2 separate regions of the Homo sapiens genome follow, and region 1 is linked to region 2. The links come from fine-mapping of genetic effects on gene expression. A gene starts in region 2. The other region holds a variant in brackets. All regions are shown on one strand. Distances are from middle to middle.

Region 1 (15,949 bases), 420 kb after region 2:
TAACAGAACTGCATCACTGATGACAGTGCATATGGAGTAGAATGTGGAGTTCCAAAATATTGTCTGCAGATATTTGCATCAGAATCAGATGCTTTTGTAATAAAAATTGGAGACTTTTGGAGTGACAGAGTAAGGAGCCTGGTGGAGTCTTTCCCTAACAAAACAAACATTTGATAGAGAAACTTCTAAAAGACAATAATTTAAAGCCTCAGGAAATTGTCCTAGGGCATACAGAAAATGGAGAAATACTCTTAAGAGAGTCTTCCAAATCTCTGTAAGAACAGCAAGTCTGGGGTTTCACGCCGCTACTGCTACCTCCTCTCCTATTTCTCTCCCAGTCCTGTAATATAGAAGCCCTCCTCTGGATGCTGTACTCCAAGCAGGTGTGGGAAAAAAGGCAGGACTCCATCTTCCCTCACTTTTAGGTGGAGGGCTATGGTTTCAGGTTTCACCCTGGGAGCGTTAGGACTTAAGTATTGCAGAAGCTTTGTTCCTAGTAGACTCTGAGGAGAGGATGAGGCTATCTTTCCCTACCTAGCATCTACTTGTAGAGTGAGCAGGAACAGGCTGAGAATACTAGCGCCCTCTTATCACCTCTGTCTTTTAGCTTGCTTGTACAGCAGTCGTTTGTGCCAGAAAAGGCAAGCCAAGATGACCAGAGACTCGACTCTTCTCAGTGCCCACTCAGAGAGCAGGCATATCATCTTGGGAGAAGTGGGCTGCTGTCCCTGCTCTTGTGCACTGGCACAGAAGTTCTGCCCAGGAAGAAAGGCATGCCATAAGGATGAAAACTCTGCAGCTCCACCTGAGGGGCCTACCTTTATTTGGAACAGAGCTTCAAGAGTTCCATGTCTATAGGCATTGTCAGAAACCACAGAGATGCTGATGGAGAACAATTAAGAAGTTGCTGATAGCACCATGTTTCTGGTATCAACATGTCACATGGCAGAGTCAACATGTTTATCAAAGAGGATCAGGCAAGAGACAGATAAGAGCCCTACTGGAATCATAGATAGTCCTGGGAATAGGAGACGCTGTGGATATGTACTGGCTGCATCCACTTAGAAGAAAATCAGAGGAAGGTATGGGGCAGAAATGAAAACATTCTTAAAGCCACACACAATTCCATTGACAAAGGGTTGAAGGCTTACTGGCACAAGAAGCTTAAGCAAAACCTCTAAGCAAACACTAGCTAAATAACAAACTACACTGAACCAAGAGCAACTTCTTAGGAAGCTATGCTTACAAATACAATCACACAGATTCCTGGCAGTCTGGAGGACTGAGTGAATGTCCACATGTGTGTAATTCTCAGGAGTGATTGGAGAGGGAACATTCTAGTCCCTAAATAAATGTGGGGCAAAAATGTAAGTTTCTTGAGTTTGATAGAAGCCTCCTAGCCACACCTACGTCTAGTGATAAAGGATAAAAATCTAATTGGTCAGGAAGGATACTTAAGCAAAATCTTTGTTCCATAAGTAGCTTGTGCTGTCCTTGACATAATCCACAAGTACCAGGCTAGGAGAATTTTAAAAAGGGATACATTTGGAGTAGAGACATCAGACACTGCACACTGCAGGGGAAATCGACTTCACAGGTTTAAGCCAAGTCATTAAATAAACAACTAAACAAACAATAACAAGAAAATCATCAGTGGATGGGAGTGGTGGTCAGTAATCAGAGTTACTACAATAAAATGTCCAATGTTCAAGTGAAAAATGATGAGAAATGCAAAGATACACAAAAGTGTGACATTTACATGAAAAAAGCCAATAGAAACTGCTTTTATGGGAACCAAGATATTGCACCTAGTAGAAAGCAACTTCAAAACAGTTATTATAAATATATTTTGAGAAGTAAAGAAAGCCATGTCTAAAGAATTAAAGGAATATATGAAGTCCATGTCTTAGCAAATAAAGAATATCAATAAAGATATAGAAATTATAAAAAAAAGGACCAAATGGAAATTCAGAAGTTGAAATGTATAATAACTCAAATGAAGAAATCAATAAAGGAACTCATCAGTAGATTTGAGCTGGCACCAGTTAACTTGGAAACATATCTGTAGCAATTATGCGATCTCAACAGAGAGGGATAAAAATAAGGAAAAATAAATAGAGCCTCAGAGAATGTGGAACACTAGTAAGAGCACCTACATATGTTATGAAATGTCAACTTTGGCTTCTAGATTGGATGTTAGCCTGATAATGATCATATTACTTCAAATAGGGAGTGCAGAAAAAATAACAGGCTTTGGAAGTTAGGTAATTTAATTTTTTGCATTTGGGCTTGAGATGCCTTCAAGATAGCTGGGGAAGGGTATAGTAGGAAGTTGAAAATAAAAATGTGTGAGTAGCTCAGAAATGAGGAACAAAAAAGGTTAGATGATATTATCAACATTTAGGTTACTGCAGAAAGCAACTACCACTCTAAAGGCTAGATGAGAAAAAAAAGGAAGCAATATTATACAGAGCCCACAATTCCTGTTGGCACAGTGGCATCATTGCTGCTGTTGGAACCTCTATCCTGTATTAAAAATTAAGAGCTCATATACTTAAGGAAGCTTCAAGAGCCTTCAATATTGCTGATGCTGCTGGGACCCACCAAGACTTCTACAGTCCACAGTTGCCTGCTACAGTTACTGAGAAAGACAGAAGAGAAATCTAAGGCTTCTCCATTTTTTCATTTTTTTTCACCTTTCAGTATCATATGAATGTCTTCTACTGGCAGAAACTCACAGGAATAAGTTTACAAGAGAGTCTGGGAAATGCAGTTTTCAGGCTTGTAACTCCCTACTGTAGAGAGAAGACTATAGAGCTGACATGGGGTTGAAGGTCAACAGACAAACATTCAGAATGCTCCCCTTTGGTTACTCAGTATCAATACACATCATTCTACATTTATTTAAACTTCCAAAGAATGACAATAGCTTCAGTCTAAAGATGCATCTATCCTGCAAACAAATTAAGACACTCTGGCCTCCTTTCTCTAACTGAAAACCAAAAATCCTCATTGGTTACTATATCCATTTCTGTACGGTGTTGCCATCTTTTCGAATTCATTCATAATCCCACATTAATATTCTGTAACCTAGAGACTAAATTGTAAATTAGTCTCCTTGATAAGAAAAAATAAAAAGGAAAAAAGGAACCAGGAATTTGTGAACAAATGCAATTTATATAAAAAATTTGTAGCTTCTAAAATCATCATTTTACTAACAAATTGTGAGACAATTAATGTTCACGGCTACCTTCTTTTACTGCCTATTTTATTCCTCTTTGTATGCATTCAGATCTCCAGTGATGGTGATTCTTTACGTGGTGGAATGAATAAAAATTTTATTTTTCCTAGGTGATGTAATGTTCACTTATTTTTACTACTTGATATGCAAATAATATGAGGTACAACAGCAAATCACTTGGGTTTCAGACATGGGCTTCCCTACCCAACTGTACAACAGCAATTCTAGTATGCATTGATAATTGGAGTGAGTCAACTTGGCTGGTTTAATAAGCTCTTCTCTTTTTAATTAGAGGTGAAAGAATACTTAAATGTCTGGGATGGGTGTGGTAGGTCATGCCTGTAATCCCAGCACTTTGGGATGCCAAGGCAAGAGGATTGCTTTGAGCTCAGGAGTTCAGGACCAGCCTGGGCAGCATGGTGAAACCCCATCTCTACAAGAAATACAAAAATTAGCTGGGCATTGGTGGCTCGTGCCTGTAGTCTCAGCTACTTGGGAGGCTGAAGTTGGAGAATCACTTGAACCTGGGAGGCAGAGGCTGGAGTGAGCTGATATAGGGGCACCGCACTCTAGCCTGGGTGACAGAGCGAGACCCTGTCTCAAAACAAATGAGCAAACACACACAAACAGAAAAAAAAAAAACTGGAGGGGAAGAAGATTCAAATGTCTTGGTATTAGTGACAGTATTTACTTTCAGGTTAATAAAATACCACATATTTTCTTTTTGCAAAGATTTATTTATTGAGGACTATGATCTGTAAAGAAGTGTTCAGAAAACAAAAAAATTATGTTATTAAAATGTAGATAGGAAAGCATTTTTAGTTAGAAAAACATAGATTTTATAGTTAGGTATAGGATATGATACTGGATCTAGTACTTATATTTCTGTGGCAATTTCATTACGTTTTATAATGCTCAGTTTTGTTACCTATTGATAATATGTAAATAATATTCTCTATTTTCCTTGTTGTGAAATAGGAGAAAATTTATGGAAAGTGCCTCATACATGAATAGCACTCAATAAATTACATTTAAAAATATAATTTAATCAATAGGCAACATAAAATTACAACATAAGCAAATAACATATTGGAATAGTTTGTACTTGGAGGAAAAATCAGAATATTATATTACATGTACACTTACATGGGGATCGATTATTATATCCCAAAATATGGCTTACGTTTGGTACAAAAATCCTCCACTTCAGTGTCTTTGGATCATGATGATGACAACAATAATGATGATGCTTTTAGTGATTATAATATTTTAGTTATCAAGTTGATCTAGAACTCACAAAGTTAATCTTCATTTTTCTTAATGCTTTCTTCATGTCGTTATTCCTGAATGTGTAGATGATTGGATTTAAAAGGGGAGCAAAAATAGTTTAAAACACAGACATCAATGGAGACAGTGCTGAATGGTCTTTCACAGGTAAAGATGCAAGCTCCAAAGAACAGTACCACCACCATAATGTGGGCTGAAAGCGTGGACAGAGTTTTGGAAGACCCCCTGGAGGAATGATGTCAAATAATAATCAGGACGGTGCTATAGGAGATTAACAGAAACATGAAACACAGCAAAGAAAGTAGTCCACTGTCTGCAATGACTCATAGCTCCAAGATGTAAGTGTCTGTACAGGCAAGTTTTATCACAAGGCAGATCACACACACACAAAAATATCCACAACACTGAGACCACAGAATGGCAAAGTCACTGTGAGAACAATTTGGCTCATGGTGTGCATGAAATCCATAGTCCAGGAGCGAGGAGCAAGTCCGATGCAATGGACTTGTAATGGAGGGGTTTGCATATGGCAAATTATCTATCGATTGCCATGGCTAAGAGTAAAACCATCTCACTTCCACTTAAAAAGTGAAGGAAAAATCTCTATGTCATGCAGCCTTCATAGGAGATGGTCCTATATTCACTAATTACATTATCGATTTTCTTAGGAGTAGCAAAGGAGGCCAGGGGCATATCAGTAGATGACAGGTTGGCCAGTAGGAAGTACATGGGAGAATGCAATTGAGGATCCAGTTTCACTACAAAGATAATGATTAGGTTACTTAATTATGGATATGTAGAGAATGGAAAAATAAGATAAAGAAAATCTGTAGCTCATGAGATTTTTGAATCCCAACAAAATAAATTCAGGCACCATGGACTGATTTTGTTTTTCCATTTGTTTGTCTGTTGGCATATATGACCTAAAACAAAATAAAAATTAAATTCTGAGAGATATGAGAAATGAAATACATATGCACTTAACACTGCTTCTAAAATTCACTGAAATGTGCAAAAAGAATCAAAAGTATTGAAGAAAAATGAATCCAATATTAAAAAAAGAGTAGACATAATTTCTCAGCAAAAATTATGAATAACTGCCAATATGTTTGAATAAATTTGAAGCCATCAATATGTAACTCATATCTACATCAATCTTGAGAAAGGTGAATAACCCAGTTGGTAAGGAGGTATGGAAGTTTCCTGCCACCTCTTCAGAATTGGAGGAACAGATTTATTGGTCCTCCATAGGCAAAGAAGAGGGCCTGTCCCTCTTCAAATCTCTTTCTACACTCAAAAATCATGAGGAACATGCAAGTGAAAGAGGAGGCAAATGGTTTTTTAATTGAGAAGGATCAAGAAAAATGAAATTGATAAGATGGAATATGGAACATGAACATACTAGGAGTCACTTCTGTAGTTGCTGCTGAAAGTAAGATAAGCAGAGATGATAAACAGAATGAATCCTTGATACATGTGAATCTATGGTTGTGCAACTTGAGGTGGCCTCAATTTTCCTGAGATTGAAAGAAGGGTCCAGTATTTGAGTTTCCTCCCATGGAGCACGTGAATTAGTAGATTGGGGAGTATAGTGCTCAGAGATAGCATAATGAACATTTATTGCTGGCTTCCCTCTGCCTCACTTACTTTCTCTGACAAGCAGCTTAATGTCCAAACAGATCTCTTAAACTATCCATACCATTTATAACGATATTATAAAGTGCAGAACTCTGGTTTAAAAAAAAAGTGATTGACAGGGAACACCTCCATGTTGTTCTAGATAGGTGAAGCAGACCCATGTGAAACGATACCCATTGAAATATAAATAATGGTAGCCAAAAATTTTGAAAGAAGCTAGCTAAGACATAATAATACAGTATTTTTTAAATGAGAGCTAAAATAACCAGAAAAAGATGAAATAGTTTATATCTGACTGGAAACCTTATTTTTATTTATTTATTTGAGACAGAGTCTCGCTGTCTCACCCAGGCTGAAGTACAGTGGTGTGATCATAGCTCACCACAGCCTTGGAATCCTCGGCTCAAGCAATCCTCCCACCTCAGCCTCCAGAGTAGCTGGGACTAAGGTGCACGCCACCACTTTGGCTAATTTTTTTTTTTTATATCAAGACAAGATGTCTCATTTTGTTTCCAAGGCTTGTTTTGAACTTCCGGCTTCAAGACAGCCTCCCAGCTTGGCCTCTGAAAGTGTTGGGATTATAGGTGTCAGCCACAGTGCCCTGCCAAAGAGACCTTACTAATAGAAAAGACACAAAGTAGATTTAAATATGTTTTTTTTAATTTTATTATTATTATACTTTAAGTTTTAGGGTACACGTGCACAATGTGCAGGTTAGTTACATATGTACATATGTGCCATGCTGGTGTGCTGCACCCACTAACTCGTCATTTAGCATTAGGTATATCTCCTAATGCTATCCCTCCCCCCTTCCCCCACCCCACAACAGTCCCCGGAGTGTGATGTTCCCCTTCCTGTGTCCATATGTTCTCATTGTTCAATTACCGCCTATGAGTGAGAACATGCGGTGTTTGGTTTTTTGTCCTTGTGATAGTTTACTGAGAGTGATGATTTCCAATTTCATCCATGTCCCTACAAAGGACATGAACTCATCATTTTTATGGCTGCATAGTATTCCATGGTGTATATGTGCCACATTTTCTTAATCCAGTCTATCATTGTTGGACATTTGGGTTGGTTCAAAGTCTTTGCTATTCTGAATAGTGCCACAATAAACATACCTGTGCATGTGGCTTTATAGCAGCATGATTTATAGTCCTTTGGGTATATACCCAGTAATGAGATGGCTGGGTCAAATGGTATTTCTAGTTCTAGATCCCTGAGGAATCAGTAGCTGATTCGATCAACTGGAAGAAAGGGTGTCAGTGATTGAAGATCAAATGAATGAAATGAAGCGAGAAGACAAGTTTAGAGAAAAAAGAATAGAAAGAAACAAACAAAGCCTCCAAGAAATATGGGACTATGTAAAAAGACCAAATCTACGTCTGATTGGTGTACCTGAAAGTGATGGGGAGAATGGAACCAAGTTGAAAACACTCTGCAGGATATTGTCCAAGAGAACTTCCCAAATCTAGCAAGGCAGGCCAACGTTCAGATTCAGGAAATACAGAGAACGCCACAAAGATACTCCTCGAGAAGAGCAACTCCAAGACACATAATTGTCAGATTCATCAAAGTTGAAATGAAGGAAAAAATGTTAAGGGCAGCCAGAGAGAAAGGTTGGGTTACCCACAAAGGGAAGCCCATCAGACTAACAGCAGATCTCTCGGCAGAAACTCTACAAGCCAGAAGAGAGTGGGGGCCAATATTCAACATTCTTAAAGAAAAGAATTTTCAATCCAGAATTTCATATCTAGCCAAACTAAGCTTCATAAGTGAAGGAGAAATAAAATACTTTATAGACAAGCGAATGCTGAGAGATTTTTTTCACCACCAGGCCTGCCCTAAAAGAGCTCCTGAAGGAAGCACTAAACATGGAAAGGAAAAACTGGTACCAGCTGCTGCAAAATCATGCCAAAATGTAAAGACCATTGAGACTAGGAAGAAACTGCATCAACTAATGAGCAAAATAACCAGCTAACATCATAATGACAGGATCAAATTCACACATAACAATATTAACTTTAAATGTAAATGGACTAAATGCTCCAATTAAAAGACACAGACTGGCAAATTGGATAAAGAGTCAAGACCCATCAGTGTGCTGTATTCAGGAAACCCATCTCACGTGCAGAGACACACATAGGCTCAAAATAAAAGGATGGAGGAAGATCTACCAAGCAAATGGAAAACAAAAAAAGGCAGGGGTTGCAATCCTAGTCTCTGATAAAACAGACTTTAAACCAACACAGATCAAAAGAGACAAAGAAGGCCATTACATAATGGTAAAGGGATCAATTCAACAAGAAGAGGTAACTATCCTAAATATATATGCACCCAATACAGGAACCCCCAGATTCATAAAGCAAGTCCTTAGTGACATACAAAGAGACTTAGACTCTAACACATTAATAATGGGAGACTTTAACACCCCACAGTCAACATTAGACAGATCAACGAGACAGAAAGTTAACAAGGATACCCAGGAATTGAACTCAGCTCTGCACCAAGCAGACCTAATAGACATCTACAGAACTCTCCACACCAAATCAACAGAATATACATTTCTTTCAGCACCACACCACACCTATTCCAAAATTGACCACATACTTGGAAGTAAAGCTCTCCTCAGCAAATGTAAAAGAACAGAAATTATCACAAACTATCTCTCAGACCACAGTGCAATCAAACTAGAACTCAGGATTAAGAAACTCACTCAAAACCACTCAACTACATGGAAACTGAACAACCTGCTCCTGAATGACTACTGGGTATATAACGAAATGAATGCAGAAATAAAGATGTTCTTTGAAACCAATGAGAACAAAGACACAACATACCAGAATCTCTGGGATGCATTCAAAGCAGTGTGTAGATGGAAATTTATAGCACTAAATGCCCACAAGAGAAAGCAGGAAAAATCCAAAATTGACACCCTAACATCACAATTAAAAGAACTAGAAAAGCAAGAGCAAACACATTCAAAAGCTAGCAGAAGGCAAGAAATAACTAAAATCAGAGCAGAACTGAAGGGAATAGAGACACAAAAAACCCTTCAAAAAATTAATGAATCCAGGAGCTGGTTTTTTGAAAGGATCAACAAAATTGATAGACTGCTAGCAAGACTAATACAGAAAAAAGAGAGAAGAATCAAATAGACGCAATAAAAAATGATAAAGGGGATATCACCACGGATCCCACAGAAATACAAACTACCATCAGAGAATCCTACAAACACCTCTACGCAAATAAGCTAGAAAATCCAGAAGAAATGGATAAATTCCTCGACACATACACTCTCCCAAGACTAAACCAGGAAGAAGTTGAATCTCTGCATAGACCAATAACAGGAGCTGAAATTGTGG[C/A]AATAATCAATAGCTTACCAACCAAAAAGAGTCCAGGACCAGATGGATTCACACCCAAATTCTACCAGAGGTACAAGGGCGAACTGGTACCATTCCTTCTGAAACTATTCCAATCAATAGAAAAAGAAGGAATCCTCCCTAACTCATTTTATGAGGCCAGCATCATCCTGATACCAAAGCCAGGCAGAGACACAACAAAAAAAGAGAATTTTAGACCAATATCCTTGATGAACATCGATGCAAAAATCCTCAATAAAATACTGGCAAACCGAATCCAGCAGCATATCAAAAAGCTTATCCACCATGATCAAGTGGGCTTCATCCCTGGGATGCAAGGCTGGTTCAATATATGCAAATCAATAAATGTAATCCAGCATATAAACAGAACCAAAGACAAAAACCACATAATTATCTCAATAGATGCAGAAAAGGCCTTTGACAAAATTCAACAACCTTTCATGCTAAAAACTCTCAATAAATTAGGTATTGATGTGACGTATTTCAAAATAATAAGAGCTATCTATGACAAACCCACAGCCAATATCATACTGAATGGGCAAAAACTGGAAGCATTCCCTTTGAAAACTGGCACAAGACAGGGATGCCCTCTCTCACCACTCTTATTCAACATAGTGTTGGAAGTTCTGGCCAGGGCAATTAGGCAGGAGAAGGAAATAGAGGGTATTCAATTAGGAAAAGAGGAAGTCAAATTGTCCCTGTTTGCAGATGACATGATTGTATATCTAGAAAACCCCATTGTCTCAGCCCAAAATCTCCTTAAGCTGATAAGCAACTTCAGCAAAGTCTCAGGATACAAAATCAATGTACAAAACTCACAAGCATTCTCATACACCAACAACAGTCAAACAGAGAGCCAAATCATGAGTGAACTCCCATTTACAATTGCTTCAAAGAGAATAAAATACCTAGGAATCCACCTTACAAGGGACGTGAAGGACCTCTTCAAGGAAAACTACAAACCACTGCTCAGTGAAATAAAAGAGGATATAAAGAAATGGAAGAACATTCCATGCTCATGGGTAGGAAGAATCAATATCATGAAAATGGCCATACTGCCCAAGGTAATGTATAAATTCAATGCCATCCCCATCAAGCTACCAATGACTTTCTTCACAGAATTGGAAAAAACTACTTTAAAGTTCGTATGGAACGAAAAAAGAGCCCGCATCGCCAAGTCAATCCTAAGCCAAAAGAACAAAGTTGGAGGCATCATGCTACCTGACTTCAAACTATACTACAAGGCTACAGTAACCAAAACAGCATGGTACTGGTACCAAAACAGAGATATAGATCAATGGAGCAGAACAGAGCCCTCAGAAATAACGCCGCATATCTACAACTATCTGATCTTTGACAAACCTGAGAAAAACAAGCAATGGGGAAAGGATTCCCTATTTAATAAATGGTGCTGGGAAAACTGGCTAGCCATATGGAGAAAGCTGAAACTGGATCCCTTCCTTACACCTTATACAAAAATTAATTCAAGATGGATTAAAGACTTAAACGTTAGACCTAAAACCATAAAAAACCCTAGAAGAAAACCTAGGCATCACCATTCAGGACATAGGCATGGGTAAGGACTTCATGTCTAAAACACCAAAAGCAATGGCAACAAAAGCCAAAATTGACAAATGGGATCTAATTAAACTAAAGAGCTTCTGCACAGCAAAAGAAACTACCATCAGAGTGAACAGGCAACCCACAGAATGGGAGAAAATTTTCACAACCTACTCATCTGACAAAGGGCTAATATCCAGAATCTACAATGATCTCAAACAAATTTACAAGAAAAAAACAAGAAACCCCATCAAAAAGTGGGCAAAGGACACGAACAGACACTTCTCAAAAGAAGACATTTATGCAGCCAAAAAACACATGAAAAAATGCTCACCATCTCTGGCCATCAGACAAATGCAAATCAAAACCACAATGAGATATCACCTCACACCAGTTAGAATGGCAATCATTAAAAAATCAGGAAACAACAGGTGCTGGAGAGGATCTGGAGAAATAGGAATACTTTTACACTGTTGGTGGGACTGTAAACTAGTTCAACCATTGTGGAAGTCAGTGTGGCGATTCCTCAGGGATCTAGAACTAGAAATACCATTTGACCCAGCCATCCCATTACTGGGTTTATACCCAAAGGACTATAAATCATGCTACTAGAAAGACACATGCACACGTATGTTTATTGCGGCATTATTCACAATAGCAAAGACTTGGAACCAACCCAAATGTCCAACAATGATAGACTGGATTAAGAAAATGTGGCACATATACACCATGGAATACTATGCAGCCATAAAAAATGATGAGTTCATGTCCTTTGTAGGGACATGGATGAAATTGGAAATCATCATTCTCAGTAAATTATCGCAAGAACAAAAAACCAAACACCGCATATTCTCACTCATAGGTGGGAATTGAACAATGAGAACACATGGACACAGGAAGGGGAATGTCACACTCTGGGGACTGTTGTGGGGTGGGGGAAGGGGGGAGGGATAGCATTGGGAGAGATACCTAATGCTAGATGACGAGTTAGTGGGTACAGCACACCAGCAGGGCACTTGTATACATATGTAACTAACCTGCACATTGTGCACATGTACCCTAAATCTTAAAGTATAATAATTAAAAAAAAAAAAAGAAAAAAAAAGAAAATAATATTGGATTTTTAGGGTGGGTGAGGAGTTGATTATGAATATCCAGGAGAAGTTAGGGATTGATAAGGTAGTTATCACAGGTTTATAAAGAAGAGAGTGATATGATGAAAAATAATTTTTATAGGTAATGTTAAATTCATTCTAAGAATAAACTGTATTTGTGGGGAGATTACATTATGCAACATCTACAAAGTGGAATTCTATACACCTATTAAAAAGTTATGTTTCTATATGTTAATATAAACATATTTAAATGTAATAAGTTAAAAACTCAAGAAAAATAGCTATACATATAATATATAATCTGCAGTCTTAATAAAATGATATAAATATAAATACCTGTAACACTAACACACACACACTGTACTGAAGTGTGTATTATTTTTCTGGAAAGTTATCTAAGAAGCTCTTAAAATGTTCAGTCAGTCTTTCTGTTATCTGTGATGTGCTTTTTTCACATTGGCATAAACTACCTTTTTTTTTAAAAGATAATTAAAAGAAAAAAACATATTTTAACCAGCTTTTTAAGAATGGCTGTTCTATTTCTGATTTTAAAATACTTCAACATTCAATTTGACATTTAAAAATAAATATTGTTAAAATTCCTAATGTTGTGGATTTTTCTGTGGATTAAGTCAGCTGACTTAATCTAGATCCTGAATATGCACTACATAGTTTATTCATTCAACAGATATTCACTTAGTGTTTTTGATATGCACTATTCCAGATGTGGAGGATTTATAAACTTCTTTGTATGTATTTGAAAATTGTTCTCTTCTGTTTAAATGCAGCTTCAAAAATTGGGTTTCAAAAAGAAGCATTAGTAGGAATTCTTAAATATTAGTCATAAAACTGAAGAGAGCTATTACCTTTATAGACATATAAATGAATGGCTCTAATTACATATTTGATGAAATTTAATATTTTGCATCAAAGTTTCTCAGAGTGGGAAATTGGCCAACAGATATGTTTACATAGGGAAAAAAATACATCCCTAGTTGGATAAGTGTTCCTATGGGATTATCTCATAGAAACATATAGCACTATGGTCTCTATTTTTTCTGTTTCTGATGATTGGAAGAGTAAATTGCAGATAACTGATGGGGATACAGGAAAAGGAGATAAAAGGCCATTCCTGGGATTCACGTACGACGCCATCACGAAAGTTTTTTTCCCCTGTCTTGTAAGTAATAACAGCACAAAAAGATGACTACAAATACTTTATTTACTGAAGGTGTTTTGTAAGACCTAGATTAATTTAAAACTATTAGCAACGGAGGCAATTTTTTTAAAAGCTGAACCAATAGAACCAGTTTGTAATAAGCATGAGCCGATGACAAATTTTGTCATAAATTTAGATTATACTGAAAGAACTGTATTTCTTTTACCAACATAAATGTTACATCAAGCTAAGTCATTTTGAAACCTATGACAACCATACACAGGCCAACCAGCTAACCACTACATAGCAATAACCAGGTAAATGAATAAATGAATGCAAGCTGAAAGTGAAATTAGTCAATTACATTTGACTGTGGGTTGTTTGTACACATTGTCTAACCATCTAGAGGAGGTATTTGATGTGAATAATATGAAATGTTGAATGAACGAATTATATAAATATATATAAATATATGAAATGTATGTAATATACATGTTTAATATATATATACTATACATATACTTGACACTTCAAAAGTGTGTAGTGACTACTGCTAATACTGATCTGTGAGGGATTCATGCAAGAATGGAGCATGGAGGAAATAAGGTAAGTTTCTCAGGACCTAATTCATATTTCTTTACCAGAGTCCATTTCAAAACATGGTTCTTGAGAATCCTGGATGTATTTTTGATATCCTTTCCACATTAATAAAACTCAATATTATTCTGTGACTATAAAACTCACCAGAATCATTATCTTATTCATAGAGATCTTTATAGCAGAAAGAGGCATTCGATACCATATAGTCCAAATTCTTTTTTTCACTGAGAAGAAAACCCTCAAAAGGAGAGTTACTTGTCCTGTGTCACCCAGTGAGCAGCTTACCCAGGTGTCCTGTAGAGGTCTTCTGATTCTAATTCATGACCTATAGTTTTGTGGTTTCATGTACTATTAATGTTTTTATTTTTGTCTTCCAGAAACTTATATTCTGAATTCTACTGACTATTTGGGATACTTCTCTGGGCCATTAGTAAAATCACTGACTGACAAAATTCCACAAAAGTAAGGGTCCTTGTAAGTTCAAGTGCCTTGACTGAGTACCAAATGTGGACATCAACATGAACATTTCTTTCCAATATGCATCATTTCCCTACCCCTTATTCTCACTTATTTTGATCATTATGGGATAAAGTTGACGATATGGAAAGAGCAAACCATTCAGTGGTATCGGAATTTATTTTGTTGGGACTTTCCAAATCTCAAAATCTTCAGATTTTATTCTTCTTGGGATTCTCTGTGGTCTTCGTGGGGATTGTGTTAGGAAACCTGCTCATCTTGGTGACTGTGACCTTTGATTCGCTCCTTCACACACCAATGTATTTTCTGCTTAGCAACCTCTCCTGCATTGATATGATCCTGGCTTCTTTTGCTACCCCTAAGATGATTGTAGATTTCCTCCGAGAACGTAAGACCATCTCATGGTGGGGATGTTATTCCCAGATGTTCTTTATGCACCTCCTGGGTGGGAGTGAGATGATGTTGCTTGTAGCCATGGCAATAGACAGGTATGTTGCCATATGCAAACCCCTCCATTACATGACCATCATGAGCCCACGGGTGCTCACTGGGCTACTGTTATCCTCCTATGCAGTTGGATTTGTGCACTCATCTAGTCAAATGGCTTTCATGTTGACTTTGCCCTTCTGTGGTCCCAATGTTATAGACAGCTTTTTCTGTGACCTTCCCCTTGTGATTAAACTTGCCTGCAAGGACACCTACATCCTACAGCTCCTGGTCATTGCTGACAGTGGGCTCCTGTCACTGGTCTGCTTCCTCCTCTTGCTTGTCTCCTATGGAGTCATAATATTCTCAGTTAGGTACCGTGCTGCTAGTCGATCCTCTAAGGCTTTCTCCACTCTCTCAGCTCACATCACAGTTGTGACTCTGTTCTTTGCTCCGTGTGTCTTTATCTACGTCTGGCCCTTCAGCAGATACTCGGTAGATAAAATTCTTTCTGTGTTTTACACAATTTTCACACCTCTCTTAAATCCTATTATTTATACATTAAGAAATCAAGAGGTAAAAGCAGCCATTAAAAAAAGACTCTGCATATAAATTTAAAGCATACTTTTTAGATGAGACTTTTGAAGAGACACTCTCTTGTTTGTTTGAACATTTAAGAAACTCGTTTTTAATGTATCAGGTTCGTGCAAAAGTCATTGCGGTTTTTGCCATTAAAGTAAATGACAAAATTAAAGTAATGGCAAAAACCACTATAACTTGTGTACCAGCTAACAGTTCAAGTTCCATATGAGGAAATAGTAGATGTAATTGTTAAAAAGCAAACACCTTTTTGTGATCTTTTATGGTCAAACACATAATATCTACAGTTTGGCTTGTATACATTTAAATCCCACCTTTATCAGTTTCTCTGGTGCAAATTTGAAGAAAATAAATAAGTTCCCTGTGATTTAGTTTTTTCGTCTATACAACCTTGTTTATATGCATCTTTCATTATTATTTTAGCATGCTCTTAAACCTCAGAAAACACATTATTATTGTTAGG
Region 2 (12,992 bases):
GTTGCTCCCTGGACAAGGGAAGCTGGGTCGCCCCCGGCAACAGTGCTAACTTGGAGGATACAGGGTTTAGGAGAGCACATCCAGGCCCAGACCGGGAGAAGAAAAAGTTCTCAGGCAAGAATTCCGGGGTCCTAGATGCCGACAGAAAGGATAAGGATGGATTTGGTGGGTAGGGACACAGATAATCCCTTGATCTGCGCAATATTGATCCAAGCAATTCAGGTAACTAGAGGACTCCTCCCACGAAGAAAATTCTGTTATCGGAATACACGGGTACCAGAATATAACATAAATAGCGTGTCTTTGGTAGAATACAACTATTACTTCTGCCCACATTTACAATTTAATTTTTACATTTAATTTACATTTTTACATTAAATTTACATTTAATTTTTAATTTAAAAAATTAAAAAAAAATTTATATATAAAGGCCAGGCGCGGTGGCTCACGCCGGTAATCCCAGCACTTTGGGAGGCCGAGGTGGGTGGATCACCTGAGGTCAGGTGTCGGAGACCAGCCTGGCCAACAAGGCAAAACCCCATCTGTACTAAAAATACAAAAAATTAGCTGGGCGTGGTGGCAGGCGCCTGTAATCCCAGCTACTTGGGAGGCTGAGGCAGGGAGAATGGCTTGAACCCGGGAGGTGGAGGTTGCAGTGACCTGAGATCACACCATTGCACTCCAGCCTGGGCAACAGAGTGAGTAGCTGGTTCCTGAGAACTTACTAGCACTTTGAAAATAACAATGCACACAAATTGAAAAAAAAATTTCGTTCTTAAATAACCACAAACAGTTACTTACGGGATATGTACATCTGTTTGGCACTACTCAACTTCTCACATGCAGGAATCCAATGCTGCCACCCTCATTTTCTGTTCCATGCTGATTTTTACACAGTACTTTTTTTTTTTACTTAATACTTAATTTTTATCAGAGGGACCTTCTAAAACCATCTTTTGTAAAGATATGTTGTCTTTATATATATATATATTTTTGAGACAGGGTTTCACTCTGTAACCCAGGCTGGAGTACAGTAGCACGATCTTGCCTCACTGCAATCTCTGCTGCCTGGGTTTGAGCCATTCTTTTGCCTCAGCCTCCCGAGTAGCTGGGATTACAGGTGCCTGCCACCATGCCTGGCTAATTTTTGTATTTTTAGTAGAGACGGGGTTTTGCCATATTGGCCAAGCTGGCCTTGAACTCCTGACTTCAACTGATCTGCCCACCTCGGCCTCTCAAAGTGCTGAGAGTATAGGCATGAGCTACCACACCTGGCCAGATATATTGTCATCAAAAGGAATGTAGCACAATCTAATGTTCCAACTGTGAATCACCTCAAGTTAATAGGTCACACAGTGTTTAAGAAATATAAAATATTGCTGTGTTTCCTCTGAAAATTAAAAATATTCCACAATACCCTTGTGAGCTTGTACTTTGGCACAGTTTGGGAACCATGGCCCCAGTCACTCCATGCCACCTCATTCCTGAATCTATGTAGTGTAAATGAATGGGCTCTAATAAAACTACCTGTGTATGAATGCCATCTTCACCCCTTATTTACTCGTGTGATTCTAGGCAAGTAAAATTCTTATTATGCTTCAATTTTTTCATCTGTAAAATAGCAATAATCTTAGTATTTTTGCAAGGATTATACAGAATACCTTTTACATGTTTAGGTAAATGCCTGGATATATAATAAGCACACATTAAATGCTGGCTATTATGATTAATCTCCATTGTCTCTTTCTCTTTTGTTCTTTCTAGACTCACCTAACCATAAATTGAATCAAAATAAAAACTAGAGGTATATCCAGCCTATCAATACCAATGAATCCCACACTGTTCAAAACAGAAGGCACTAGCCATGTGTGGCTATTTAAAAGTAATAAAATTAATTAAGATGAAATATAATAAAAATAATTCAGTTACCTAATCATACTAATTACATTGTAACTTCTCGATAGTCACATGTGGTTAGTGGCTACCATATTGCATAGCATAATTACGTTTTTATGCTAGAGCACAGCACTGTTCTTATCTTTTCTAGTCACTGCCACCTTGTATCCACATAAAAGAAACTGGAACTGTGCTTTATTATTTACTTTTAGGGTAAAAGAGTTCCTGTAGCATTCCTATAGACAGGAACCAGACGATCATCAATCTTAGTGTGATTAGAGTTCATTAATGCCTTATTACCTTTTCTTCTATCTTCTCATCACTTCTATCTTCAGAGGGACTCCTTGTCCAGGAACATACTTAGTAACACACTTACCCTCCACCCGCAAGATCAAGGAAACTAAAAAAAAGTGGCAGGAATAGGTTCTAAGTCACTCAGTATTGCCTTGTGGAACGTATTTTATTCCTGCCCTCTCAACTGAGATCTCTTATTCTCTCTAGATCACAAGCTAAATATGCGGTTTTAAAAATATCTATCCCTGGCCAGGCACAGTGCCTCAGACCTGTAATCCCAGCACTTTGGGAAGCCAAGACAGGAGGATTACTTGAGCCCAGGAGTTTGAGACCAGCCTGAGCAACATGGTGAAGTCTCATCTCTACAAAAAATACAAAAATTAGCCAGGTGTGGTGGCATCTGTGGTCCCAGCTACTAGGGAGGCTGAGGCAGGAGAATCACCTGAGCCCAGGAAGTCAAGGCTGCAGTGAGCTGTGATGGAGCCACTGCACTCCAGTCTGAGTGACAGAGTGAGACCCTATCTCAAAAAATAAAATAAAATATCTACTCCCCTTATCACCATAATCTTTGGTCTTCCATTTTCTCCAATTACTGAAATTAAAACATTTTAGGGTTTTTCCCTGTTTTTTTTTTGTTGTTGTTTGTTTGTTTGTTTTTAGATAGGGTCTCGCTCTGCCACCCAGGCTGGAGTGTAGTGGCTCAATCTCAGCTCACTGCAGCCTCAATCTCCTAGGCTCAAGCGATCCTCTTTCCTCTGCCTCCCAAGTAGCTAGGACTACAGGCACGCACCACCGCATTCGCCTATTTTTTATTTTTATTTTTTTAGAGATGGGGTATCTTCATGTTGCCCAGGCTGGTCTCAAACTCCTGGGCTCAAGTGATCCTCCCACCTCAGCCTCCCAAAGTACTGGGATTATGGGCATGAACCAGCACATCCAGCCCTTCTCTTTCTGTTATAGGGATCACTTTTATTTCTCTTTTCTAAGAGTGAGACTTCCATCTGTGCCTCACTCAGTGGCAGGAAGAACAGAGCAGAGATAAAGGACTGGCCTACCACCCTCTATTCCAAAGACCTTGGCTCCTAGAAAGGGAAGCCAGGAATTCCCTAAAGGAAAGAGCAAAGAACTGAGGCCCAGGAAGAGCAAGGAGCACAAGGGAGCAAAGTCCCAATGTAATTAACGTAAATTAATTCTTTAAAACCAGGTCACACCCTACCCAATCCCACCCAACCCCCGGCAAACTACCCCTCGTCTTAGTTAACTCACTCTGCACATTACCAGAAACTTTCTGTGCCTTTGAAATGCAGTAAGGGATTGTGTTGTTTTCACACAGGTGGTAAATTACCACTTCAGGAAAGAGGAAAAAAGAAATAGGGCATGTGGAATATGTGAAAAAAAAGAAATCAGATTGGGACACTTTGGGTCATAGAAGCCAAGCAGATGTTTTCCACCCCATCCTCTGGCCATGTACACACTGTACTAGTTATCACTTTGTTGGAAATCTAAAGAAAAAAATGCTTTGAAATCTATTCTATTATATAACACAATGAAGTGTGTTCCCCCAAATTCTTATATTGACGCTCTAATCCTCATTGTGACTATATTTGGAGATAAGTCCTTTAAAAAGGTAATTAAGTTTAAATGAGGTCATAATGGTGGGGCCACAATCCAATAAGACTGTTGTTCTCATAAGAAGAAGAGAGGCCAGGCAGGGTGGTGCTCACCTGTAATCCCAGCATTTGGACACCAAAGCAAGAGGATCACTTGAGCCCAGGAGTTAGAGACCAATGACCAGCCTGGGCAACATAGTGAGACCCTGTCTCTACAAAAAATTAAAATATTAGCTAGGCATGGTGGCATGCACCTGTCATCCCAGCTACTTGGGAGACTGAGGTGGCAGGACTGCTTGTGCCCAGGAGTTCAAGGCCGCCACAGACTATGACTGCACCACTGCACTCCTGCCTGGGTGACAGAGTGAGACCCTGTCTCTAAAAGCACGGAAAAAGAAGAGAAAGAGGAAGAGAAAGCAAAAATGTGTGTAGAGAAAAGGCCATTTATGCCACAGTGAGAAGGTGGCCATCTGTAAGCTAAGGAGAGAAGCCTCAGGAGAAAGCAAACCTGCCAATATCTTGATCTTGGGCTTCCAGACTCCAGAGCTGTGAGAAAATAAATGTTTGTCGTTTATGCTATCTATAGTGTTTTTTATGTCCTAGCAAATTAATACACCTCAATAGCCTAACTGTTCTCAATCTAAGTGAGAAGATCCCACCCCATAGGTAAAAATCAGGCAATACCTGAGACACTCAATATTTACCAGAGATAATATTAAAATGGCTTATCTGTAAAATACAGGTACCAACCAATCAGAACCAATGGCGCCATAAACAACCAATGCCAGCCACCCTGTAGTGCCCCAGCTGAATATCCTCCCTGCTTGCAACTGCAGCTAACAATATTGTTCAGTACCCAGCAAATTTATCCCAAGATGGGGCTTAAGTTACTTCATTAATTAATTAGAGAGCCATCTATCAAGCAGCTTCTATGTTCCAGGCATTTAGCATAAAAGGGGGCTCATCCCAAGCACCTTCTCTCTGCCACTTCTGTGCTTCTGTCCCTTTCAATCTACCTATCAAATTATTTGAATGTAAAATATTAGATCATAAGTCAGAAGACGGGGATTTAGAGCTCCATTTCAATCTGTCACTTAGCTTAAATGACTCCAGTTTACACAGCCTCAGTTTCCACATCTGTAAAATAAAGATATAGTCTTGCCTTCCCTGTCCACATCACAGTGGGTTCTGAAATAAAATGAATATAACTATGAATGTGCTTTATTGGCCGGGCACAGTGGCTCACGCCTGTAATCCCAGCACTTTGGGAGGCCGAGGCGGGTGAATCACGAGTTCAAGTGATTGAGACCATCCTGGCCAACATGGTGAAACCCCATCTCTACTAAAAATACAAAAATTAGCTGGGTGTGGTGGCACACACTTGTAATCCCAACTACTCGGGAGGCTGAGGCAGGAGAATCGCTTGATCCCGGGAGGTGGGCAGAGATCACACCACTGCACTCCAGCCTGGCGACAGAGTGAGACTCTGTCTCAAAAAAAAAAATGCTTTATTAACTGTGAGCAAGTTCCAAATATTATGATTACTTTTTGCATTTTTCTGCCTATTGATCTACTCAACAACACAGAGCTCAGATCCTAGTTATCCATGCACAATACTCATTTTTCTTTATGTTTTAGAAGTTTTCTCTGGCTGCTCTAGCTAGAAGTGATCTCTTCTTTTCTTGAACTTGAATTACATTGTTTAATTCTTTTATTATGAAGCATGTGCTGTATCATGAATTTCTAGTATTGATATTTTTCCATGTAATAAAATACTAGTGCTGATTTTCTTTTTTTTTTTTTTTTTTTTGAGACACGATCTTGCTCTGTTGCCCAGGTTTAGATCATGGCTCATTGTAACCTTGAACTCCTGGGCTCAAGCAATCCTCCACCTCAGCCTCCCAAAACACCGGGATTACAGGCATGAGCCACCACTCCTGACCTGATATGTTATACTGTCAATGTTTACACTATTCTGTCTCCCTACCCAGAGTGTAAGCTTTTTTAAGGAGTGTCTTTCACAAAGTGTAGATATTTAAAAAATATTTTTAGGACAGTTTTTGGAATATATGTGTAACTAGGGCGCAAATAATGGATCCTACTCCAACCCCAGACAATGCTTGAGCATCTGTGTGCCACAAACAGCAGAAAAAGCAGCAGACTGGCCTCCCTCTATGGAGCTACAACCTCTTCCCTATTTTGTATCTGGAGCTTCCTTAGTTCTTTAAGTGTCTGTTAGGGGCTCTTATCTAACTGGTCGAAGGTTACTAGCTTCCAAGTAGAAGTTGGCCTGAGAAAACCCTGTCTAAAAAAATCAGGACCTAGGTGAAGTCTCCAGCCCCTGTAGCAGCCAAGTGCTGGGACATCTGCAGTTCCTTTGTTATTACATATTTGGGGCTGGCTGTACTTTCTTTGATGCACTTCCTTTCTTAGTGGAGAGTCTGCTAGCCAAACTGATAATGGACCTCCTCGGGGTTTATTGTTTTTATCAATTCCTTGTTGCTTCCCATATTTAAAGCAGTCCCAGTTTGGGCTATGACTTGGGAAAAAATCCAGGTGTGGTTCAGGCGCCCATAAAGACCACACGAGACTTCAGGTAGGGGAGGAGGCACTGCCCCTTTGCTGGAAGCAAAGTTGAGACAGGCCTAAAGACTGTCCCATCTGTCAAATAAGGTGACGAAAATAACCTTGTATTTGATTAATCCAATCTACAAACTTGTGCGTATGTTAAAGGTTGGTGGTCATAAAACTGAGTAAAGGCACGGTGGCTTGTCCCTGTAGTCCCAGCTACTGGGAAGGCTTAGGCAGGAGATCAAACTCAGGAGTTTGAGTCCAGCATAGGCAAGACCCCATCTCTATTGAATTTTTTTTTTTTTTTTTTTAGTAAAACGATGAAATCTTCTAGTAGTGGAGACACTAATGAAAAGATAATTTAACAATTTGATCAGCAATGGGGAAAGACGGGGCTCTGTAAGGACAGCTTCCAGGAAAACCCAGTCTTGTGTCCTGTCCTGAAAGTGACTCTAGCGACAAAGGCTGGAGTGATAATCTTAACTTTTTAATCCATTTCCTTCTGGTACCTCATTACTCTGACTTTTTAAAGGTACTTCTTTGAGTAGAACAGCTAACTTTGTCTACTGTTCCCCACCGTCCATTTTCTCCCCGCTCAGAAGATCCCAAGCTTCCGCACTCCTTTATTGCACCCGCCCAGCCTCCTTTAAAATGCATAAGCCACGCCCCCCATGTTCTGGCGCTAAGTTCGGGCCAATGCAGTTGCGCCGCTAGGATCACAGGACGAAAGAAGTAAAGTCACCAGCCAATAGGAAACCAGCTACAACGCAAAGCCGGAGAAAAGTGTTTTAGTGGTGTCTTTGAACCAATGAGGAGCAGAGCAACAGGGACCGTGCAGCTTCCAGAAACACGTGACCAGTTGAGCAGACGCAGCCTAGCCCTACCTCCTGGTCTGGAGGTAGCGCGATGGGCGTCGCTCCCAATAGCTTGCAGAACCTCTAGTCACGTGCAGGTTTTGCAAGCCCAGCAGCATCTGGCAGGTCATGTGACAGTTGACGTTTGTGCGTCGCTCCCCAATGGAAAAGGAGAGCTGCCTTCACAGGACCAGGAATTGGTTTATCTACGCGAATAATAGCATGACCCGGGCGGGGATAGCCTATCACGTGCTGCTAGACGGAACGGGGCGGGGCAGGCCACTGGTTGCGGAGTGAGCTGGGCGCGCGGCGCGCAGGCGCCCTGGGGACCCGGTAGCGGCGGTGGCGGTGGCGGCGGTGGCGGTGGCTGCGGCGACGGCAGAGGCGAAGGGAGCCGGATCGCCGACCTGAGCGGGAGGCGGCGGTGGCGGCCATGGCGGCAGATGGAGAGCGTTCCCCGCTGCTGTCTGAGCCCATCGACGGTGGCGCGGGCGGCAACGGTTTAGTGGGGCCCGGCGGGAGTGGGGCTGGGCCCGGGGGAGGCCTGACCCCCTCCGCACCACCGTACGGAGCCGGTAAACATGCCCCGCCCCAGGGTAAGCCGGGGCGGGTCCGAGGTGCTCCCCGGGGTACTCTGAAAGCCGGGGAGGGGGCGGGACCGAGGGCGGAGGCGGGTCCCAGTCGCCAGGTGCGGGACTGCTGCACCTGTGACTGGGCGAGGCTTCCTTCCCTCCGTAATCGCGACCACAGCCTAGGGACGGAAGGGGGTTCTGAGCAACCTGATAGAAGTGCCAATTATGAGAAGCCCTCCGAGCTTGGTCAGAGGGTTGAAGATCAGAAGGACTTCCCTACCACCGTGGAGCATCAGTGGGGGTGTAAGTGATCCCAGCCCTTCTATTTGCTTCCTCTCCAGCATTTCCCCCGTTTCCCGAGGGGCATCCAGCCGTGTTGCCTGGGGAGGACCCACCCCCCTATTCACCCTTAACTAGCCCGGACAGTGGGAGTGCCCCTATGATCACCTGCCGAGTCTGCCAATCTCTCATCAACGTGGAAGGCAAGATGCATCAGCATGTAGTCAAATGTGGTGTCTGCAATGAAGCCACCGTGAGTTACACATATCTATGAAATGGGCCCTGTTTCCTGGATCCTCTTTCTGATGTCTTGGTTCTAGACCCTGACCTTCCGGCTATTAGCCAAGTGCTTTTGATGATACCCAGGTTTCAGTTCCAGGTGTCTCACACAGCCATTTCCCCAGAAGCCACTCACCAAAGCTAATGTTCACTTTCTCTCACTTTTACACCTAGCCTAGTTCCTATTTGCAAATCTCATGATATAGTCTTTCTTTTATTTCTCCTTCCTGGTTAGCACCTTATTTTTCTGATCTCATAAAGTGTTTTTGGAGGGAAGTGGAGGGGATTGGGATTAGAGGTTTGCTTGCTGATGACCCTATTATTCTCTAGCCAATCAAGAATGCACCCCCAGGGAAAAAATATGTTCGATGCCCCTGTAACTGTCTCCTTATCTGCAAAGTGACATCCCAACGGATTGCATGCCCTCGGCCCTACTGGTAAGAGGCATAAGGTGGGGAAGGGCCTAAGTGGGGAACTGGAAAGTCAAAAAAGGATGAGCGTATACAGAGAATGTAAAGGTGAGAGAGCCTAGTGTTTATTTAGGAGAAAAGGCTTTGAAGCATGTGCCTCAGGAATGTTATAGCTGTCTTTCTCGTTTCTCAATAAAAATATTGAGATGAAATGATGTCGTTTCGGAGAATAGAGAGCCTTGGGGACTGGGTGTGTTATCCTGAGGTCGGAGGGGAATTGGGGACCTGAAGTTTAAACAGTGCTCTTTCTTTCTCAAGGATTCTTGAGGGTATACAGTTGGGGGACAGAGTATCTTAAGTACAGAGAAGTCGAGTGACTTAATAGACAGGGAGTGGGGGATGTGGAACAGGGACTGTGAAGATTTTTAGGATTAAAAATTTTTCAAACACAAGTTTGAAAATACAAGTCTTTTTCTTTTGTATAGCAAAAGAATCATCAACCTGGGGCCTGTGCATCCCGGACCTCTGAGTCCAGAACCCCAACCCATGGGTGTCAGGGTTATCTGTGGACATTGCAAGAATACTTTTCTGGTGAGGAAGGGGTATTGGGAAGGGGAGGGGAAAGGAGACTAAGAGTCATTTCGAGTATATTTCTTAGAGTAATGGTAATGACCCCTGAAAGGTCTGTCCTATGGGAACATGTTCTGCATCCCCACCCCAAGGTTCTCATTGAGGGAGACCCTGCTTGTGCTATTATTTTTGTTTTCTTTCTCCATAGTGGACAGAGTTCACAGACCGCACTTTGGCACGTTGTCCTCACTGCAGGAAAGTGTAAGTGATTAGGGATTGAGCTGGTAATTGATGTATGGAGTAAAAACTACAAGGCCATAGAAAGCATCCATTTCTATTTGCCTCCCCACAGGTCATCTATTGGGCGCAGATACCCACGTAAGAGATGTATCTGCTGCTTCTTGCTTGGCTTGCTTTTGGCAGTCACTGCCACTGGCCTTGCCGTGAGTACCCTTGCCCCAACCTCTTTCATTCTGCAGCCTCATCTCCATAGGCTAAGATTTGGGAAACTGCTACCCTAAAAAAAAGTGGAAGAAACTTGGGGGACTAGTTTGTTTTGTTTTAAGATATGGATGAGCTAAAGTGCAAAGTGGCTGATCAAACAGACTTTATTACTACTACAAGAGTGAAAAACAGCCTTCCTTTCTCTGTAGGATGAGGATAGGACAGTGAAATTCTTAATTTAAGAGTTGCTATTTTTCAAACCTGGCTCAGTTGTCAGATATTAAGAAAAACTGAGATACAGTGTGGGATGGGATGAGTATGTTACGCCTAAGGGAAGGAAGCTGATCAGCTCTGCCTTTAAGAAGGTCCCTGAGGGTGGCTACATGTGGATAAGGAACAAGGACTGAAGCGTGAGTTATTACTGTTCTTAGAACTAATAGGAGGTAGTGGAGACCAACATTAACCCCATCTTTCTTTTCTTCTCCCTCCTTATCTTCATCAGTTTGGCACATGGAAGCATGCACGGCGATATGGAGGCATCTATGCAGCCTGGGCATTTGTCATCCTGTTGGCTGTGCTGTGTTTGGGCCGGGCTCTTTATTGGGCCTGTATGAAGGTCAGCCACCCTGTCCAGAACTTCTCCTGAGCCTGATGACCCACAGACTGTGCCTGGCCCCTCCCTGGTGGGGACAGTGACACTACGAAGGGAGCTGGGGTAGTTAAAGGCTCCCGGGGCTTCTAGAAGGAAGCCAAGCAGCTGCCTTCCTTTTCCCTGGGGAGAGGTAGGAAGGAACCAGGCCCTCACTTAGGTTTGGAGGGGCAGATAAGAGCACTGCTGACCATCTGCTTTCCTCCAAGGGTTGCTGTGTCTAGGGTGAAGTAGGCAAAACGTTGCCCTTAAAACTGGGCCCTGAAGACGGTTCCAGCCTTGTCCTTCCTGTGTGCTCCCTGAGAGCCATTCCTGTCCCTTACACATTCCAGGGCAGGGTGGGGGTGGGTAGCCCTGGGGGTTCCCCTCCCTCTTGTGCACCATTAGGACTTTGCTGCTGCTATTGCACTTCACCAGAGGTTGGCTCTGGCCTCAGTACCCTCAGTCTCCTCTCCCCACATTGTGTCCTGTGGGGGTGGGGTCAGCCGCTGCTCTGTACAGAACCACAGGAACTGATGTGTATATAACTATTTAATGTGGGATATGTTCCCCTATTCCTGTATTTCCCTTAATTCCTCCTCCCGACCTTTTTTACCCCCCCAGTTGCAGTATTTAACTGGGCTGGGTAGGGTTGCTCAGTCTTTGGGGGAGGTTAGGGACTTATCCTGTGCTTGTAAATAAATAAGGTCATGACTCTACGCTTTTTCAGTTGTTAACTTGTGTGCATGAAAATATGAGGAAGAGAATGTGTAGCCCCACGAAGGGGTAAGACACGAAGACAGCAAGGCTGAAACTATGGCTCTTTATTTTCATGTGGATAATTCAAACAAAGTCATTAGTAGTCTTTGTTCAATTTTTTTTTAAAAAACAAAAAACCCTCAAATAAAAAATCTTGGGCTTAAAAGAACTCTATCACAGGAGCCTGGTTGGAGGATTCCTAGTTTTATACATGAGAAATAGAATGCAGATTTCTCTGAAGAGTGTTTAAAGAAGGAATGGTAGTTGAGGGGGCTTATTTCCCAGGCTCAAAGTGATTTAGGGGTGGTGTCACAGTGCTAGGTATAGGGTGATAGGACAGTGATCACTGCCGAGGGCCTTGGAACGGATCTTGCTGTCACACAATGCAGGTAACAGAGAGTGGGACAACAAAAAGTAATCAAGGCGCCAACCAACATTCTTGGATCGAGCATTCATCATATAAGTCCAAAAGGTGTAGGCATAGGGTGTGTTGGGGTAGAGGTGCCTAAAGCTGTCAGCCAGTGGCACAGCCTGCAGTAATTCCCCGAAGCCTTGGCGCTCTTGTGGCGTGAAGCCAGCATTCTTTTTGTTCCCCTTGGGGTTGCGAAGGTCAATTTCTTCATGTGCCACATTGAGGTCTCCACACAGCACAAGGGGCTTTCGGGAAGCCAGGCCCTTCAGGAACTTGCGAAAGGCTTCATCCCAGCGCTGCCGGTACTCCAGTCGTACCAGACCTCGGCCTGCATTAGGTACATATGCTGTTACCAGCACAAACGAGTCAAATTCAGCCACAATCACCCGGCCTTCCTGATCATGCTCCTCATCGCCTATAGAAATGAAACAGAATTAGCATAAAAAACTATAAGAAAAGGGAAAGCAATCAAGAGGTGGGGCAGAGATAGAGAATTAGCAATTGGTTTTGAAGAGTTCAGGCATTAGGCATCAATAGGGTCTCACCTATGCCGTAAGAAACTTTGAGTGGGCACTGGCGGGAAAGCAGGCCCACGCCACTGTACCCTTCCTTGTCCGAAGGAGCTGACCAGTATTGATGAGAGAGTCCAGGCAGCTCCTGAAGTTCAGCTGGTAGTTTGTTCTCTGAACATTTGGTCTCTTGAAGGCACAGTATATCTGGGGCTTCTTCCTTTACCCACTGTAAGTGAAAAGAAAGGTGGAAAACGTATTATCAATTCAGCAGAACATTTATTGAATAATCTATATGCTAAGTCATAGATACGCACGGGTTAAACAGTCTCTTGGCCTAAGGAGTTCGAGTCAAGCAGCACAATATTCAAACAATTCTAAGCTAGATAAATGAAAACAAATATAGAGAGGTAAGAAAGTCTTACATGCTATGCCAAGGAGATGTGTTTTTTCTATAGGCAGTGGATAGCAAGCTAAGATTTTTAAGCTATGGTTAATGGAATGGAGGACATGCTTCATATGGAATGCAATGCAGGAAGATAAAATGGAGGAAGTATAGTGAAGAGGTTTTTGCAACATTCTGGGAAGAGGAGAGAACACTAAAAAAGAAAATGGCAATGGAAGTGAAGGAACAGACATTTAGGAAATACAACTGGCAAGACTGGGGAAGCCCCACAGAAAACTACGGGCAGGAGAAAAATAAAACAGCCTGAAGGCTAAACGGAGAAAAGGGGTGACTAAACCCTAAGACCATTCAATACTAAAAAATGTCTCTTTCCCTCAAATTCCACTCACATCTAATCCTTTCTTCTTAATCCAGGCTCGAAGCCCATCCACATTCCAAGAGCAGATCTTGAGTGTGGCAGGTTTGCCACTGGGTGAGGTTTTCTGATCTGGGGGGTCCT

Direction of the effects. Positions count from the first base shown, and alleles are read on the strand shown. Sizes are in standard deviations (SD) of each study's normalised expression.
For the expression in subcutaneous fat of the gene that starts at base 7,550 in region 2, allele C in region 1 goes with a lower level than allele A (large effect, 1.6 SD a copy in FUSION).

The links. PIP is the estimated chance that this variant, and not a neighbour inherited with it, causes the effect.
Region 1: its variant is fine-mapped to the expression of PIP4P1 in subcutaneous fat (FUSION, PIP 0.91).

The regions. Positions count from the first base shown.
Region 1 is chr14:20,033,393-20,049,341 of GRCh38, reverse strand. OR4K13 (olfactory receptor family 4 subfamily K member 13) reads left to right here and starts at 13,304. Exons shown (of 2, transcript NM_001004714.2): 1 at 13,304-13,404; 2 at 14,361-15,949. The coding sequence starts at 14,584. The coding sequence ends at 15,498. It also overlaps the pseudogene OR4U1P. The variant C/A (reference allele first, on the strand shown) is at 9,532.
Region 2 is chr14:20,455,992-20,468,983 of GRCh38, reverse strand. PIP4P1 (phosphatidylinositol-4,5-bisphosphate 4-phosphatase 1) reads left to right here and starts at 7,550. Exons shown (of 7, transcript NM_144568.4): 1 at 7,550-7,800; 2 at 8,139-8,329; 3 at 8,686-8,792; 4 at 9,251-9,356; 5 at 9,544-9,596; 6 at 9,688-9,778; 7 at 10,282-11,303. The coding sequence starts at 7,659. The coding sequence ends at 10,425. APEX1 (apurinic/apyrimidinic endodeoxyribonuclease 1) reads right to left here. Exons shown (of 5, transcript NM_001641.4): 3 at 12,883-12,992; 4 at 12,124-12,316; 5 at 11,217-11,993. The coding sequence ends at 11,476. RefSeq lists enhancers at 6,886-6,965, 6,298-7,263, 7,266-7,335, 7,264-8,230 and silencers at 7,456-7,865, 7,926-8,095, 11,600-11,894.